Regions from separate parts of the Homo sapiens genome. Here region 1 is linked to region 2. The links come from fine-mapping of genetic effects on gene expression. A gene starts in region 2. The other region holds a variant in brackets. All regions are shown on one strand. Distances are from middle to middle. Region 1 overlaps LINC02763 (long intergenic non-protein coding RNA 2763). Region 2 holds the start of LINC02762 (long intergenic non-protein coding RNA 2762).

Region 1 (9,175 bases), 250 kb after region 2:
TAATCTTATGGCCCAAATTCCTGAGATAAACCTGAGGGATATCCAATTCAAAGCCCCGAGAGTTCCTAGCATAGAAGAATTCCCAGCTACTATGTCCTGCTTACAGCCTAGTGGAAGTGTTTCTGTTGTAAGAATCAGAGGCCCTGAGAGGCCAGGGAATTCAGGTGTGTAGACTGAGGAGATGTTATCTTTCTCCTTGACTTGGCTAGAGAGCCAGGGAGTCATTTTTCCTTACCTCTCCTCAGCCCATCTTTGGAGAGTTAATCTCCTGAAGTAGTAGCTCAGGTTTCTTTTAGATACTCTTGGATTACCTTCTACTTGATGGGTGTGGGGTGGCTGGATCTAGCAGGCAGAATCTGGCCACCCACTTGGCATTACTCATTCCAACCTGCAGGATCCCTTGTTCACATGAAAACCAAGTCCTCTCTGAATCACCACCTGACATAAACAGGCTCCAGCTAGAGCCTTGTATGTTGAAAAATATCTTCATAAAAATATTGCTAAATTCATTTTAGTGGATTCCTGAAATGCCCCAAAAGGACGGGCCCTTCTCTGGACTCCTATCCTCTCTGTGTTGAAGTTGTCCACACACTCCCCATCTACCACAGGAAACTCTCTGAGCAGCTGAGGGCAAGGCTGGCTTTCTTGACAGTTGTTTTGCCACTGCTCTGTTGCTGTATGTCACAGAGGAGGCTCACAGTAAGCATCTGAAGAGGGAATGAATGAATGGATGAGGAAGTGAGATAAAGGACAAAACGTGTCCTTCTGTATCTGATGGGTTCCCATTAGATGAGGAGCCAATCTAATCTATCTATGTAGCTCCCAATTGAAGACCATGACCCAGGAAATGGATGTTGTGGGCAGAGTTGCTCTCAGTATAAGGAAAACCTTTCTCAGTTTTAGAACTGCTGCCTTAGGGAGTAGGGGAGCTCATTTTTTTTTGTGCTCAAACAAAAGCTGGACCTCTGTCTGGAGGAATGAATCAGATTACTGGTGAAGAGCTGGATGACTTTTGGATCTCTTCCAATTCTGAGGTGATCCAGCTGTCATTGGGGTAGCTGTTTTTCCAAACCAACCGTGAAATAGATGCAACTCTCCTCACACATTTCCATCACCAGGTATTTGGGAAATAATTAATTATTTTTTGAGGCAGAATCTCATTGATCTATCATCCAGGCTAGAGTGCAGTGGGACAATTTAGCCTCACTGCAAACTCTGCCTCCCAAGTTCAAGCAATTCTCCTGCCTCAGCCTCCCAAGTAGCTGGGATTATAGGTGTATGCCACCATGCCTGGCTAATTTTTTGTATTTTCAGTAGAGACAAAGTTTCACCATGCTGGCCAGGCTGGTCTCAAACTCCTGACCTCAAGTAATCTGCCTACCTTGGCTTCCCAAAGTGATGGAATTTCAGGCATGAGCCACCGTGCCCGGATGAAAATTTAGATTGGACTTAAGACCTTGTAGTGAAAACTGGGGAAGGCAGCAGCTGCTCTGTCCCCCATGTCTCCCTGGGATGTATCTCCCAGTCTCCCTCATTGGATACCAGCCTCTGGCCTCTTCTTTGTTTCTCCAGCTCTGTGTCTCCCCATGTTCTCATGCCGGGATCTCACCCCTTTGCTCAAGATGTCTCTACTATTCTTCCCTGAGTACAGCCATTGGACTTCTGGGATCCTCTCATCTTGTACTCTCATGCCCATCATCTCTGCTTCCACCCACACCATTAGCCAATGAGGAAGCCTATGCCACCAGGAGCCATCCCTGTGGAAAGTGGTTTATGTGTTTAAGGACATGGAGTTTCCTTTAGAATCTTTGTTGACAAACATTTTCAAATTCAAAGGAGATAGGCGAGAGAAAGCAAGAAAACAAGTGAGCACATTTATCTTTCTCATTTAGAAGAGCCTAGAACCTCCTTTCCTTCCAGCCCCACAACCTCCACTCCACCCAGAAGAGGAAACAGGCACCATTTGATGTTGGTGAGGTCATGGAGGGTGGCGAACGGTGAAGCTTAGTATTCCCCAAGAAATAGGGTCACCATCCTCAGGAAAGCCTTCCCTAGCCCCTAAGATTAAGGGAGCAGCCCCCTCCTTCCATGGCTCCATATGCCTTGCCTTATTATACCACAGCTGTGGCTTTATATTTATTTGTGAATTTATTTGATTATTTTCAGGATTTTCCATAATGTTTTAAGCTCCATCTCTGTGTCTCTCCCCATGTTGTCATACTGGGGGCTGTGTCTGTTTGGAGTCGTTACTGAATCCACATAGGGCCTAGCAGAAGTTCTGGGCTAGGAGTAAGTGCTCAATTAATATTCGTTAAATGAATGACTGAATATGTGGAAATAAAAATATAATTTCTAAAAATATGGACAGGCAGTCTTTGGCATGAAGTTAATCCTCACGGTTGTGTTTGCTCAGGTACTTGAAGGGAAACCAGATGAAGCCAGATGAGAGCACCCACCACCCCAGCCTCACTGCCTTTCACTTCCAGGAACTAGAACTCACCCTCCCATTTCTCAGTCAAGCCTGCAGATGCTGAGACCAGAGCTCAACCCTCACCTTTAGGGGGCCTGCCAAACAGAAAGAGAAAGTCTTTGGTATGCCTGTGGGGCCAAAGGACAGAGACGTCTTCATTTTATAGGGAAGGTGCTTAGACAGTTGGAAAGGGGGAAATGGTTAGGAAAAGTGGTGTAAAGTAAGGGCTTAAAGGGAGAAGACTGGGGAGGAAAGAGAAGCAGGAGGCATAGGGAATGAGGAGTTTCCATGAGGGTTTTCTTCCAGAAGCCCAGGTGGGAAAATTTGCTCTTTGTTTAGTGCAAGGGTTCAAGGTGGCCAGACCAGAGACCAGCACTGATGAGCATGAGTTCTCTGCTTGCTGAGTGACAGAAGAGAAGGGAAAGGGAGGAGAAAAGAAGATCAAAGTCAAGTGCAGAAGGAAAATTGCAGGTAGGCCAGGTTCACTCATCAGCTTATTTGCATCTAATATGAGCACTGGGATGACAGAAAATGATGCCTACAATTTCAGGGCAATTACATCCAACTACCACATTCTCTCCTTCCCCTTCCCCCGTGCTGCCTCCAGCCCCAACTGCGCGGTTCTACTGTAGACCTTGAAGGATGGCAAGGAAGAAACAATGGTGCCAGTGGGTCCCTGGAGAGAGGGGACTGCAGGAGATCCATGGGGAGGGGCTGCAGTAACTGAGACTCTATGCCCATCTCCACCAGCTTGCCTGCCCACTGCCAAACTGCCTATTGCCATGTTTTTGTTTCTTGTTTATCTGACAGGATCACATACATACATATAGTTCCTTGTATACCCAATTCATTGGGTGGAGTACTTTGATTTGTAGCTTAACCCTGCCCTGTACTTAAAAGGTCTGGGTCCCAGAGCCCCGTGGCTGTCTCACATGGTTCCCTAGCAACCAAATGAGACAGCGAAATGTGCAGTTTCATCACCACAAGATGTTAGGTCAATTAATATTCATTAGCAGTGCCTGTGTTTGGCTGCTAGGAGACATTGTGGGGAAAAAAAAATCTTTGTTGCTTGAGTGGGGGATGGAAGGAGTGAAGAGACCAATGAATATGTATATTATGTACTGAAGATGTGTTTTCTTAGACTAGTACACTGGCCTGTCTGCACATGTGCATGCAAGATTTTAAAAGATTAATCTTTGTATTTACAATTATCCTTCTAAGTTTATTATATGGAAATAGATTACAGAAACAATAGGAAAGTTGTACCCCAAAATATTTATCATGGCTCATTCAGGACACCTAAAATTGTACAATTCATAGTGATTTTATTTATTCTATAATTTTTTTTCTTATTCCATTGTATGCTCCAGGTGGGAAACTTGGATGCTTGAATAATACATAAAAGAAGCATAGGAGGAAAAAAATTCAGAAATTTCCTGTGTACTCATCATGTAAAGATAACAGCTTTTAACGTGTTGTTGTATGCCCTTTTAGTGTTCTTTTCATTCCAGAGAACACACACACAGTCACATACGGTTTTACAAAAATATCATTTTATATGTACTGTCTTATAGACTACATTTTATAATGTGGCATTGTCATTACGAACATTTTCTTGTGTCTAACATCATTTTTATTAGTCACATAATATTTCAGTGATTGTATTTCCTATGGTTCATTTAACCAAACTCCAATTTTTATTCACGCATTTAGGATGTTTACTTTTTTTGCTATTAATAATGTTGGAATGAGTATCCTTGTACATTCATCTTTCAGTCCTTGTCCAATTATTTCCTTAGAGCAAACTCCTAGAAGCAGAATTACCCACTTAAAGGTCTTTCACATGCTGCGTCGTGTTTTCTTTCAGAGAGAACAGAACAATTTCCATTTGTACCAATAGCGAATGAAGGTACCCTATGATCTTCTTTATAAATAAGACTGGAAAAGATCATGAAGTTCCCAATGTCCAATATCTGAGTTTTATCAGAGACTTCCCTTAATGAGGCTAAAACGAGAGCCCTGGCTCCCTTTGATGGGGAGGGCACATATTCTCAAAGAGGGGAATCTGGGCTGCAGAAGACTTATGATTTTGACTTGACCCAGCTAAGTATTTTCAGGAAATTTGTCCTCCATAGCCCCAAAGTGCAGCGTGAAACCAGCCAGCATCCAGGTGCTCCCTGCAGTGAGAGTGTACACCACTGGCCTCCAGACTCTTGCCCATCCTGTGTTCCCGATGTTTCTGCCCACCCCCCTCCCCTGCCCACAGATCTAGTTTTAGTCTCATGGCTCTGGTTGCCCCAAGCCCCAGCTCCAGGAAGATGACAGAGGGATCAGGCAAGCCCTGAGGTGAGTGGTAAGCTTGTCTCTGGGAAAGAGAGAGGACAGGTCTCAGTTCCCTTGGGAGTCCTGAGGAGGAAGACAATGTAGTATCAGCAAAGGCCAGGGGCACCTGTGACCTGAGAAACAGGTGACTAGAAAACCAAACCAAACTGCTCCA[G/A]ATTAGGGCAGTCCTTCCAGTTCTGTTCTAATTAAGAACAGTTTCCTTTGTACTCCTAGAAAACAGAACCCCCCCCACCCTCAAGCTAGGTGGGACAGGAGGTGGGGCAGAAGAGTGAAAACAGAAGGCCTATTTGGCCCCCTTTCCTGGATTCTGTTTAAAAATAGGTTCTGGTCATGGATGACCAAGGACCATGAGCTGAACTTCCCAATCAATGGAACCAACACAGACACTTGTGCCCACTGGGCCAGGCTGGGCAAAAGAGCCCACTCCAGAAAAAATTAGTGGGCCTTGATGGGAGAAATGGGACAGAATAGGGCAGTGGTTATTTATTGAGGTGTGTGTGGACCAGCAGCAGCTGCATCATCTGGGAGCTCATCAGAAATGCAACTGCATGGGCCCCACCCAAACTGCTGAATTGGAATCTCAAAGGATGAGGCCTGGAATGTGTGATTCACCACGTTCTCTATGAAGCACTTGGGGACAGGAGTTCTTTGCAGAACATGGGGACAGGAGTTTTCAGTCTTGGCTTTTTCTGCCATCCCGTGAGATACCAAGCAAGCCTCTTTGTCTCTCTTGGCTTTATGTAAGGATAAGTAGACTTGATACTTTTTCCTTCAACTCTCTCCTTGTTAGTATAAACATCTAAATAAGGTATGCATGTGTGTGTACATGTATGCATGTGTGTATGTGTGTTTGTGTGTCTGTGTATGCATGCACATGTGTGTCTGTATATGTGCATATATGTGTGTGTACGTGTTGTGTGTGTGGTTAGTTTACTCTGGTTCTTCTTTTCCCTTCACCTTCCATTCCCATGAGATGATAAAGAAAGCTTATTGGAAACAAAAACTCAGAGTCAAAACCAACCAATGATGTTTACTGTGAAGTCATCTGAGAAACAGGATGTTGAGGTTCTCTAAGGAGCTGCTTCGCAGCTCCTAGCAGAATAGTGGGTTCTCCTGTAGAAGCAGGACACAGGTCCTTACAGACAGAAGCACAAATAAAATACCAGTTGGATTAGAGGTGATTTAAATTTATGGCTTTCCATCAACTTTATCACTTTAGAAAATGCTCATTCCAATTGAACTATGTTTTCTTTTCTCTTAAAATTAACTGGTTGAGCTTAAGTTTCAATGAAACATTGCTATCCAAGTTTTAAGGGCTATTAAGGGTTCATCACATTAGTGAGGTCCATTTGTTTTAGGGTATACTCTGGAGCCAATGTGTCTGGGTTTGAGTATAGGCTCTAACAGTTATAAGTGAGTAACCTTGGGCAAGTCACTTAACCTCTCTGTGCCTCAGTTTTTTTCACCTACAAAATGGAAATAATAGTGACTAGCACAAAGTATTGTGAGGATTACGTGGATTAATATATGTGAAGTACTTTATAATAAACAAAAAAGCAAAGTACTGGTATGAAAACAGACACATAGACCAATGAAACAGAATAGAGAACTCAAATAAAGCTGTACACCTAGAAACATCTGATCTTTGACAAAGTCAACAAAAATAAGCAATGGAAAAAAGACTCCCTATTTAATAAATGGTGTTGGGACAACTAGCTAGCCCTATGCAGAAGAATGAAACTGGACACCTTCCTTTCTTTATATACAAAAGTTCACTCAAGATGAATTAAAGATTTAAATTTAAGACCTCAGGGCCGGGCACAGTGGCTCAGGCCTGTAATCCCAGCACTTTAGGAGGCCGAGGTGGGTGGATCACCTGAGGTCAGGAGTTCAAGACCAGCCTGGTCAACATGGTGAAACTCCATCTCTACTAAAAATACAAAACTTAGCTGGGCATGATGGTGTGTGCTTGTAATCCCAGCACTTCGGGAGGCTGAGATGGGTGGATCACCTGAGGGTCAGGAGTTCGAGACCAGCCTGGCCAACATGGTGAAACCCCGTCACTACTAAAAACACAAAAATTAGCTGTGTGTGGTGGCATGGAGCTGTAATCCCAGCTACTCAGGAGGCTGAGGCAGGAGAATTGCTTGGACCTGGGAGATGGAGGTTGCAGTGAGCCAAGATCATGCCATTGCATTCCAGCCTGGGAGATAAGGCTCCATCTCAAAAATGAATAAAAAATAAATACAAAATTAAAAAATTAAATGTCAGACCTCAAAGTATAAAAATCCTAGGGAATATCATTTTGGACATTAGCCTTGGCAAAGAATTTATGACTAAGTCTTCAAAAGCAATTGAAAAGTGGAACCTAAGTTAGCTAAAGAGCATCTGCACAGCAAAAGAAACTATCAGCAAACAGGCAACCCACAGAATGGGAGAAAATATTTGCAAACTATGCATCAACAAAGGTCTAACATTAAGAATCTACAAGGAACTCAACATGCCAAAAAAAAAAAAAAAAACCCATTAAAAAGTGAGCAAAGAATATGGATAGACACCTCTCAAAAGAAGACATGCAAGCAGCCAACAAACATGAAAAAAAAATGCTCAGCATCACTAATCATCAGAGAAATGCAAATCAAAACCACAATGAGATACCATCTCACACTAGTCAGAATGCTATTATTAAAAAGACAAAAAACAACAGATGCTGGTGAGGCTGTGGATAAAAGGGAATGCTTATACACTGCTGGTGGGAATATAAATTAGTTCAGATCCTGTGGAAAGTGATTTGGTGATTCCTCAAAGAACTTAAAAGAGAACTACCATTCGGCCCAGAAATGTTATTAGTGGGTATATACCCAAAGCAAAATAAATCATTCTAACAAAAAACACCTACACGAGCATGTTCATTGCAGCACTGTTCACAATAGCAAAGACATGGAATCAACCCATCAATGGTGGACTGGATAAAGAAAATGCAGTATATATACATGGAATACTATGCAGCCATAACAAAGAATGTAATCATATCCTTTGCAGCAACATGAATGGAGCTGGTGGCAAAATCCAAAGTGAATTAATGCAGGAACAGAAAAATAAATACCAGATGTTCTCACTTACAAGCAGGAGCTAAAGATTGGGTACACATAGAAATAAAAATGGGGGCCGGGTGCGGTGGCTCATGCCTGTAATTCCAGCACTTTGGGAGGCCCAGGCAGGCGAATCACCTGAGGTCAGGAGTTCAAGACCAGCCTGGCCAACATGGTGAAACCCCGTCTCTACTAAAAATACAAAAATTAACTTGGCGTGGTGGTGGCTGCCTGTAATCCCAGCTACTCGGGAGGCTGAGGCAGGAGAATTGCTTGAACCCGGGAGGCGGAGGTTGCAGTGAGCCAAGGTCACACCATTGCACTCCAGCCTGGACGACAAGAGTGAAACTCCATCTAAAAAAAACCAAACAAAGAAATAAAAATGGGAACAATAGACACTGGGGACTATTAGAGGGGTGATATGATTTGGCTTGGTGTCCCCACCCAAGTCACATCTTGAATGGCAATCCCCACCTGTTGAAGGAGGGACCTGTAATCCAAACGCGTGAAGGGAGGCAGGTGATTGGATTATGGGGGCGGTTTCCCCCATGCTGTTCTTGTAATGAGTGAGGTTTTTTTGTTTGTATGGTTTTTTGTTTGTTTGTCTTGAGATGGAGTCTCACTCTGTTACCCAGGCTGGAGTGCAGTGGCACGATCTCGGCTCACTGCAGCCTCTGCCTCCCAGGTTCAAGCAATTCTCCTGTCTCATTCTCCCAAGTAGCTGGGACTACAGGTGCCTGCTACCACGCCTGGGTTAACATTTGTATTTTTAGTAGGGGGGCGGGTTTTACCTTGTTGGCCAGGCTGGTCTTGAACTCCTGACCTCAGGTGATCCAACCCCCTTGGCCTCCCAAAGTGTTGGAATTACAGGCATGAGCCACCGCGCCCGGCCCCTGAGTGAGTTTTCACAAGATCTGATGGTTATAGAAGTGGTTTCCCCTGCTCTTCTCTTTCCTGCCACCTGGTGAAGAAGGTGCCTGCTTCCTCTTCTGCCATGATTAGAAGTTCCCTGAAGCCTCCCCAGCCATGCAGCTGAGAGTCAATTAAACCTCTTTCCTTTGTAAATTACCCAGTCTCAGGAAAGCTCCTCATGGCAGTGTGAAAACGGACTAGGACAAGAGGGAAAAGTAAGAGGGCTCCAGGGGCTGAAAAACTACCTATTGAGTACTATGCATACTACCTGGGTGATGGGACTCACTTGTCCCCCAAATCCCAGCATCATGCAATAAACCCATGTAACAAACCTGCACATGTGTTCCTGAATCTAAAA
Region 2 (9,175 bases):
GCAGGGATCACTAGTCTGAGGAGCCCTGGGGTTTTTGATGTGTCTCCTGGGCATGTCAGAGGTGTGACAGATGCAATATGGAGAACGTGAGAAAGGGCACAGATGTTAGAGTCCAAGAGGCCTCCATTGGAATCTTCCTCCTCACAGTGTAACCTTGGACTGTACTTAACCTACCTGAGCCTCAGTTTTCTTATCCATATTATGGAGAGACTCCGACCAACCTTGCAGGATTGTGTTAAGGTTTAAAAGAGGTAATGCATGTAACATGCATGCCACAGAGTCAACCCTCTAAGAGGAAGTTTTTACCACCGATGGCAAGTGTCTGTGTTAACTCGAGGGACAAGGGCGTCCAGGGAGCTGGGGGTAGCTGGAGAAGTTACTCTCATTTGTTGACCCACAATGGATGTTCAAGTCCACACATGTTGATTTATGAGCTAATTGGGTTGTGCCTCTGGCTCTTTGGTTCAGCATTGTGGGTGTTATGCTTTTGAATAGCCCAAAGTGAGAGTCCCCATGCTTTAGGGATAGCCCGTGGTCAGCTTTTGAGAAGATGCATACCATTCTTCTCATTCCCCGAGGACTTACAAATTCTCAGAGAGGGGGAACACGCTGCTATGTATTACATTAAGAATTTTCAAGCAGGACTGGCCCTAAGAGATAATTTTAATCTAACTCCCTTATTATGTCTGAGAAAACTGAGCACAGAAAAATTAAACAACTTGCCCCAGGCTTAAGAACTACTTAGTGACAAAGTCAGGGCCAGATCCCGGCCTCCTTCCCACCAGCTGGGGATTCTCTCCACTGGACAGCTTACTATCTAGGGAATACATGTGTGCTCTGCTTAGCATTTCAGATTCAGACATATTCCAGATACAGCACATGTTAATTTTAATATGCCGTGTGTATATTTTGTTGTACGTGTGGGACACGTGCCTCATCTACTTACATTTGATAGAACTTGGAGAGAAGTTTATCACAGCAATAGTTAGTTGCTCTATCTTTGCTCAAGACTTTTTGTTGATCATATTTGTGTCTTCGTTTAATCCAAAATTGCATGTTGAGAGCACAGCTGGATCTGCACTGTGCTTTACTTGTGTTGCCTCGTTGGCCTACCGTGGTCAGTGGACTGGGGTTGGCTGGTTGAGCTGCTCCAGGTCACATGGCCTTCTGGGAAAATAACCCCTGCTTTATAGCAATTATTGCCAAACTCCAGGCTGGCAATGATCTTGATCAACTGTTTACCTGTTTTCATGGAATGACAGAGATGAGGGCAAAATTATGACAGTTTTTATAAAGAAAGAAATGTTGATTTGGTTTAAAGCCTGCCTTTTATTTTGATGTTATAGCTTTCTGATGTTTTGTTGTTCTTTCTTTTATGAAACTATAGTCATTGTAGATTATAGATGGTAGATTTTCCCCTCCTTCACCTATTTATTTACTTATTTTTTTATGTTTGCCTCGCACTAATAAACTTCTATTTTGCTCAAATTAGAGCAGTAATCTTCCATACATAAGTATCTTCCCTGCCCAATAATTTAAAGAAAAAATCCAAAATGATTAGTAAAGAAAAATATAAGAATTAACCGTCCCTTTAAATTTGTTTTAAATATTTTTAAGGTTTAAAAAGGGTTTAAAGTTTGTAATTCCTAGTAGGAAAATATTATCTGAATGAATACCCTAATGGCAAACCATGGTAAATGCTTCAGCTGCATTTGGGGGAGAGGGATATGGATTATCTTCAAAGCACCCCTGAGGTACGCTGGTTTGTATTATTGCAACATCCATAAGGTGATCTAGGTTGCTTTTCCTTCAGCACGGTCTTTATCAGAAGGACATTACTCTTGACCTCCAAATTTGGCTGACAATTTACTGATAAGATTCATAACCTTTGGGTTGCCCTGGTATTGTGACATATTTGCTGGGTTTTGAGCCACATCCTGGAAGAGGCCACCATAACTTTGGGATCCTGCACGGCTGCAAGAACCTCTGGATCACTAAGAATTTCATTGAGTCCAGTTATTCCGGCCATCCCAGGCATGCCCCCTCTCATTCCAAGCATTCCCCCAGGAAGTCCATCTGGAAAAGAGCCATACTGAGCTACTGACTGTCGTCTGGCTTCTTCCTCCCTCTGGGCTCTCTCTTGCTCTTCTCGAGCCTTCTTAACTCTTTCTATTCTTTCTTTGATCTCTCGCTCTTCACGTTTTTGCTCATACTTTCTCTGATGTTCCGCAATGTCTGTGCCCTAGGCTGAACTTCTTTCAGCATTGCACTAGCATCTTCATCATAATCCAATTTACAGGCAAGGGCAAGATCATGGGCTGCTCCTTCCCAGTGGCCTAGAAGTCTGTGTGCTTTACCTCGCCACTTGTAAGGCTGAGCTGAAATAAATTTCAACGGCTCTGTCACAGTCTCGGATGGCAGCATTTGGCTTCTGTAATTTGATGAAGACACTGGCCCTCTTGGCATACAAAATGGCCAACTGAGGATTCAGCTTGATGGCATCTGTGAATAAGTCAATGGCTTTCTGCAGTTCACCATCATTTAGGGCTTCAATAGCAGCCACTTTCTTATGATTTGCCTGATCCATCATCTCCTCTGTTATCTCTGCATTTTCATCTCCCATTTCTTGAGGGGCATCAGGGTCTGGTTCAATCACATCTTCATTATCAATTAATAGATTACTTTCCTCACTTGATGGTTCGTCTGCCTTTAAGTCTTCCTCCACCTTCTTACTATCAGGTTTTTCTTCCTTGGTATTTTCTTCTGATTTAACTTTCTGAGTAGCAGGTGATAGTTTACCCCCCATGCTCTCCACCCACTCCCTCAGGAAGTGCATTTCCTTGGTGTGCAGAACGCTCAGATCCTGCTTACACATTTTCACAAAAGCCCGAAGTGCATTCACTTTGTGGGGGTCCATGGTCGGGAGGCGGTGGACGAAGCTGAGGGGCCGTGGCCCGGTTCCAGGCCTAGGCACTGGCTCAGTGTGACTGCGCAGAAGGGGGCACCTATTTATTTTTTAAATGTCCTTATTTAACAAAATGAAAACGTAGCACCTATCTAGGTGCCTAAAATCCAAAGTTTTGAAACCAGAGATCTAAAAAGATTTAGTTTGCATCGTAACTTCCAGAAATGCCTTGCATTACTGTGGCAAAAAGCAGGAATTGCTAGCATTTAAGTAGGAGTAGGGAGGTTACGTCTCAAGAAGGGTGTTCAAGGACCCCTTTCTCACTGAGTAGGAGGTCAGATCTTTTAAGCTTCTCTTCCCAACATTAGAATCAGTCATCCCCCCAAAATTGGACATTTATTTCAGTCACTTTTAGGGAGAGATCAGTGTTGAGGGCACTTAGTGGTAGAGTGAGAGCAGGGGTTGGTGGGTGAGAAAGTGAAACTGGACAAGAGAAGTTGGGACTCAGAGCTTCCCAGTCCCCAAACAGAAGAGGAACTGGGAAGGTATTTCCAGCTGCGGAAGAGGAAGGTTTGGACACTCTCTTTACATGGCTAGTGTGGCTTCTTCCTTTGAGAGGAAAGAATTCTCTGCTTGAGAGGAAACCCACTGCAGGAACCTGAAGAGAACTAAGCCCACCTAGGTCAGTAACTGGAAACAAGTGGCTCTTCCTCTGTCCTGCATAGCTACACTTAGAAATTTCATGGAAAGGTGTGACATTTTATCAAGACATTTGGCTGCATTGCTCCTGCTGTTTAACCAGAGGATTCAGCAGCAAACAAAATAAGACAAAACAAAACAAAAAAACCAGGACGGTTTAATGAGTGGGACATGAATTGGAACAGGCAGGATGAACTGTGGGTTCCTGTGGTGGTCTGACAAGGATGTGACGAGGACACCTTTCCAGGGGCAAAGTCAAGGCCATGTGCTCTCACAGGAAATTCCCTTCGGTTAAGTTCCTGAAGAGTGTATTGATTTTCTGATACCCTGCCTTATTCAGGTAGGACTTAAAGCAGCTTACAGGAAAACAAGATTTAAAATGTAAGAAGTTAAGGATATAGGGAAAAGAAAGGTAGAGCAGAATGATAAGAGAAAGGTGGGGTTTGTGATCGTGGGAATTTCCGTGCTGGCATCTCCGTGTTGGTTCTGTTGTTGCAGGTACTGGGAGGAGGAGATGAACCCTGCTCCTGTGGAGGCTATGAGGTATTGATGTCGTGTACACATCCAAGGGGTGGTCTAATTATTTACAACTAGGCTCCTGAAAATCAGCCCTGAATCCAGCTTTCTACCTTCTCTTTTCAATATCATTTAATTAATTGAGTCACAGAAACAGCCTTTAATTCATTTAATTCCCTTACATTCTTCTAACTTCTGCCATATATCTCGTGATCTGTGATTTTTCCTTTTGCACTGATTTGATACTATGTAGTAGCAACTAAATATCGTTACTTATACCATAGCAGCTAATCTTTCTTATCAACAAAAACAAATAATGTCCACATTCCTGAAAACAATTAGGCTCTATTTCTAGCCTTGTGAACAAATGCAATTTTGTCACTTACATAATTTGTTATTGATAGAGTAACTTCAGAATTATTTGTAGTACTGCTTCCTGAGACATATAAAATCATATTAATGATTTTTAATAGCAATCAATAATAACATTTATTAAATACCCACGGTGCTTCGAATCTTTCAGTTGGTCAGTCAGCATTTATGTTCTTAATATCACTCCCAAAGCGTCATATAAACAACTTCTTTTTTTTTTTTTTGAGAGGGAGTCTCACTCTGTCACCCAGGCTGCAGTGCAATGGCACAATCTCAGCTCACTGCAACCTCCGCCTCCTGGGTTCAAGCGATTCTCCTGCCTCAGCCTCCCGAGTAGGTGGGATTATAGGCACCTGCCACCACACCGGGCTAATTTTTGTATTTTTAGTAGAGACGGGTTTTCACCATGTTGGCCAGGCTCATCTCAAACTCCTGACCTCAGGTGATCCGCCCGCCTCAGCCTCCCAAAGTGCTGGGATTACAGGCGTGAGCCACTGCACCCAGCCCATAAAAACAACTTCTAACCTCAGGAAGCCTACACTCCAATGGGAAACCAAGGGTGACCCCAGACCAATTTATGCGACTGCTTTATTTCCTTATCCACAAAGTGGGGAGAATGACAGTGCCCATCTCATAAGGCTGTTGGGAACTTTTAACGACATAATACTTGTGGAGCGTGATGGCTGGCATAGAGAAAGCACTGGATAACTGCTTGTTTTCCTTCTTCTTGTTATGATTGGAGAGATTCCGCGGAGGTGGTGCCTGGGAGCTGGCCACACCTCCCCCAGAGGGAATTTCCGAGTTTCACAGGTTTCTCTCCCTTCTGAGCAACGGCAGGTGAGTCAGGGTCGCTTGTGCTCCCCTCCAGCTCTGGGATGTATGCTGTCCAGCTGGTTACGAGTCTCCATGGCATCCGAGGAAAAGTGGAGCTGGCTGAAGGGAGGTGGAAAAGAAGGGCAACAAATTCCAGTTTCTTGTGAAACTTTGTAAACGTAAGGCTCTTATCTCAGTCTGCAGAGCAGAAACAGGGTGAGGGCCATGGATCTGAATGTCTCCACCTGTGCATAAAACATATGATTAGAGCTGAAGACCTAGAAGTCCCTTCCCCAGGCAGGGCATGAACTCTTCTGTTTCTAGAACCATTTAGGGAGGTGACAACTTGGCTTCGTCCCAGAGATTCAGGTGAGGACAGAACAGAGGGCAGGGTGTTCTTGCCCTGAGTTCCCCGCTAATGAGCTAATCCTGGCCCTTCACCTTTGTTTGGCATGAAGTTTACCAGAAAAGGGCATCCTGCCTTTATCCTTGGTTCTCTATACCCTCGCTACTTTTCCTGTGTTTTGTAAACACGGGATGGTGTATTTAGCTTTCTTTTGCTGGAATTATTTTCACCCCATGTCCTGTGTCTTCCTTGTCCAGAAGAAATCATCTTCTAGCCTAAGAGCTCCAGAGAAGGGTGTGCAGGGGACGGCCATGTTCTGATGCATGCATTCAGCTGTGTCGAACAGTCTTCCTGTTTTGCTACTGTCTGAGAATATTCTTTTCATTCTGTGGGCTCCTGGGCCTGGGCTTTCCTTGGCTTATCTCAGGAATCTGCCTCTTGGTCCCTTTCATTGGCTGCCTTCTATGTTTAGGTTTGTAGGGGAAGGCCCCTGGAAGGTGGGTGGGAGAAGAGGCACCTCTCAGGAGAGGCTGAGGCGCAAAGATGCTCTTGTCCACTCAAGTCCATATTTATTTATCTTCTAATATACTTTGTTTGTTAGTTTGTATGCTTGTTTGTTTTGAGGGTCTCCTTCTGTTACCCAGCCTAGAGTGCAGTGGTGCCATCATGGCTCACTGCAACCTCAATCTCCGAGCTCAATTGATCCGCTTGCCTCAGCCTCCTGAGTAGCCAGGACTACAGGTGAATGCCACCATGCCTGGCTAATTTTTTTTTTTTTTTTTTGTAGAGGGTTTTTTCCTGTTGCCCAGGCTGGTCTCAAACTCCTGGTCCCAAGTGATCCGCCTGCCTTAGCCTCCCAAAATGCTGGGATCACAGATGTGAGCCACCCTGCCTGGCCTTCTAATATAATTTGGATATTCCATGGATATTCCCACCTTGATCTACATTAGGAACTTCCTGGAGGCTTGTGCTCAAGAGAGGTAGTATCTGCTTGCTCAGCAAGCAGAGGCTGAGTAAGTGCAGGACTCTGAATATGGTTGTGCAGCAGAGTTGTGGGTATTTGTGGGGACGTTGACCTCAGGCCCAGCATTTAGATTTAGCTAGCAGACATGCCTGGGCAGCTAAACTGGCAATGTCAGACCAAACTGCCTGGCCTGATATTGCCAGGCAGTTTAGCGTATCAGGGCTCTGCTTAGAAGCCACAATGCCAAGGCCTCATGACCATATTCTTCCACCCTTGAGAATCTTGTCCACCTTCATATCCCTCCATTCCTCACGCATCATGTCCTGGGTGGGTGCCCTGACACCTCATTCTCACCTCCATCTCCTTGCTCACTCATGTTTTCCAGGTTGTACTTGAGAGAGCCTAGGCCTTAGCGGTAGAGTTGGTTTCAAGTTGCTGCCCTCCCATCCCCTGGAATGTAACTGGCTTTCTGGGACTTAGTTTTTTTCATTTGTAATGCCTGCCTTGTAGTCCCATTGTGAAAATTAATCAATAATTTGTTTTGAGGGTCCAATATGTGGCAGGCATTGTGGTAAGCTTTAGGGCAGGGGCATAAAGACCAGTTAAGATTTCTCCTTTTTAAAACTTTTATTTTTTTGTAGAGATGGAGTCTTGCTATGTTGCCCAGGCTGATCTTGAACTCTTGGCCTCAAGTAATCCTCCTACCTGGGCCTCCCAAAGGAATTACAGAATGAGCCACCATGCCTGGCTTATCCCTCTTTTTGAATAGCTTTTGGTTAGTGTTAAGAGGCAGGTTCATAAACATAATTTCAAAATAATGCGTAAATGCTAAGATAGAGGTAAGCCTTAGGAGTACAAAAGAAGGGAAAGAATGCTTTTTGGGTAAATGGTGGATGAGCTGGTTTTCTTTCTCTTTCTTTCTTTCTTTCTTTCTTTCTTTCTTTCTTTCTTTCTTTCTTTCTTTCTTTCCTTCTTCCTTCCTTCCTTCCTTCCTTCCTTCCTTCCTTCCTTCCTTCCTTTCTTTCCTTCCTTCCTTCCTTCCCCCCTCTCTCTCTCTCTTTCTTTCTTTCTTCTCTCTCTCTCTCTCTGGAGTTCAGTGGCGTGAATCATAGTTCACTGCAGTCTTAAACTTCTGGCCTCAAGCAATCCTCCTGCCTCAGCCTCCCAAAGCACTGAGATTACAGGTGTGAGTCACTGCAGCCATCCTGGATGAACTGTTTTGAAGGATAGGGGTAGGTTGGGGTGAATGTTCCTGGAAGAGAGAAGTGTGGAATTACAAAACAGTGTGATGTGAGCAGGGAACAATGAAAAGGTAATGTTCAAGAAAAAGAGTGACAGATGCTGTTGCTGGCAAGTAAATAGGGGCCAAGTCATGCTAGGTCTTATAGGTCATGCTAAGCATTTTGAATTCTATCTGTAGGCAACAGAGTTTTATTTTTATTTGTTTATTATTTTTATTTTTTTCACCCGGAGGTGAAACAATTTTATTTCACAGTTGCCTTTAAAACCTCAAAGATACTATTTTCTTCATATAAAAATATTAGTACTGGGGGGAGAGGCCAAGATGGCCAACTAGAAACATCTGTGGTCAGAGGCTCCCACTGGGAGGAACCAAAATGGCAAGTGAATCCTGCACCAGCAACCAGGGTATCCAGGTTCTCTCACTGGGACTGACTAAGCAGTTGATGTGACCCATGAAGAGTGAAGAAAAGCCGGGTGGTGCGACGGCCCACCTGGGAGCCACACGGGGAAAGGGCAGCTCCCACCCCAAGCCAAGGGAGGTGGTTAGTGATCATGCTACCCTGCTAGAAAACCGTACTTTTTCCACGGATCTGCGCAACCCACAGATCAGGAGATCCCACTTTTGAGCTACACTACCAGGGCCTTGGGTCCCAAGCACAGAGCTGTGCAGATTCTCAGCAGCCACTTGACTGGAGACTGCCTAAGACCCCAGTCAAGTGGCTGCTGAGAATCTGCACAGCTCTGTTAAGTTAACTCTGCACAGCTTTGTTAACAGCTCTGTTCTGTTAACTCTGCTAAGAGTTTCCAGGGGGGTGGGGGCAGCCATTATCACTGCAGCTGCCTGCTGCCTAAGATGACTGAGCTCCCCTGAGTTGGGGTGGTGGCCATCATTGCAGCTCATGTCTGCCATTTTTCCCCTGGTGGTTTCATCTAAGCTCATAAGGGAAAGGAATGAGTGGAAGATGTAGGGGAGCTCACTCAGCAGTGGAAGTTTTAAGTGGCAGAGAGGGAAGGTTTGCGATGGAGAGAATAGTGAGAACGGGAGGAGGAGGTTGGAGGAATGTTCTGTGGAGGACAAATGGTGAGACGGGCTTTCTCTGAGGACAATGGTTGTGGTGTGACTAGACTGGCTGGTCCCAAGGGTCCAAAGGGAAGCCACTAGCCTATTAGGGCTGGGCTGGAGCGTACAGGTTCTGGATCTGTAGGTCAGAGGTGGGGGGGTCCAGGAACATGCATTTTTTTTTTTTTGAGATAAGGTTACACTCTATGGCTCAGGATGGAGTGCGGTGATGCAATCACAGCTCACTGCATCCTCGAC

The links.
Region 1: its variant is fine-mapped to the expression of LINC02762 in whole blood (TOPMed, PIP 0.98).

Annotation. Positions count from the first base shown.
Region 1 is chr11:112,511,095-112,520,269 of GRCh38, forward strand. All of the region lies in intron 2 of LINC02763 (long intergenic non-protein coding RNA 2763), which reads left to right. Among named protein-coding and RNA genes, the nearest start is that of LINC02763, 33 kb to the left of the region's middle. The variant G/A (reference allele first, on the strand shown) is at 4,968.
Region 2 is chr11:112,265,455-112,274,629 of GRCh38, forward strand. It overlaps LINC02762 (long intergenic non-protein coding RNA 2762), which reads left to right and starts at 5,295. Exons shown (of 4, transcript NR_126004.1): 1 at 5,295-5,329. It also overlaps the pseudogene ST13P10.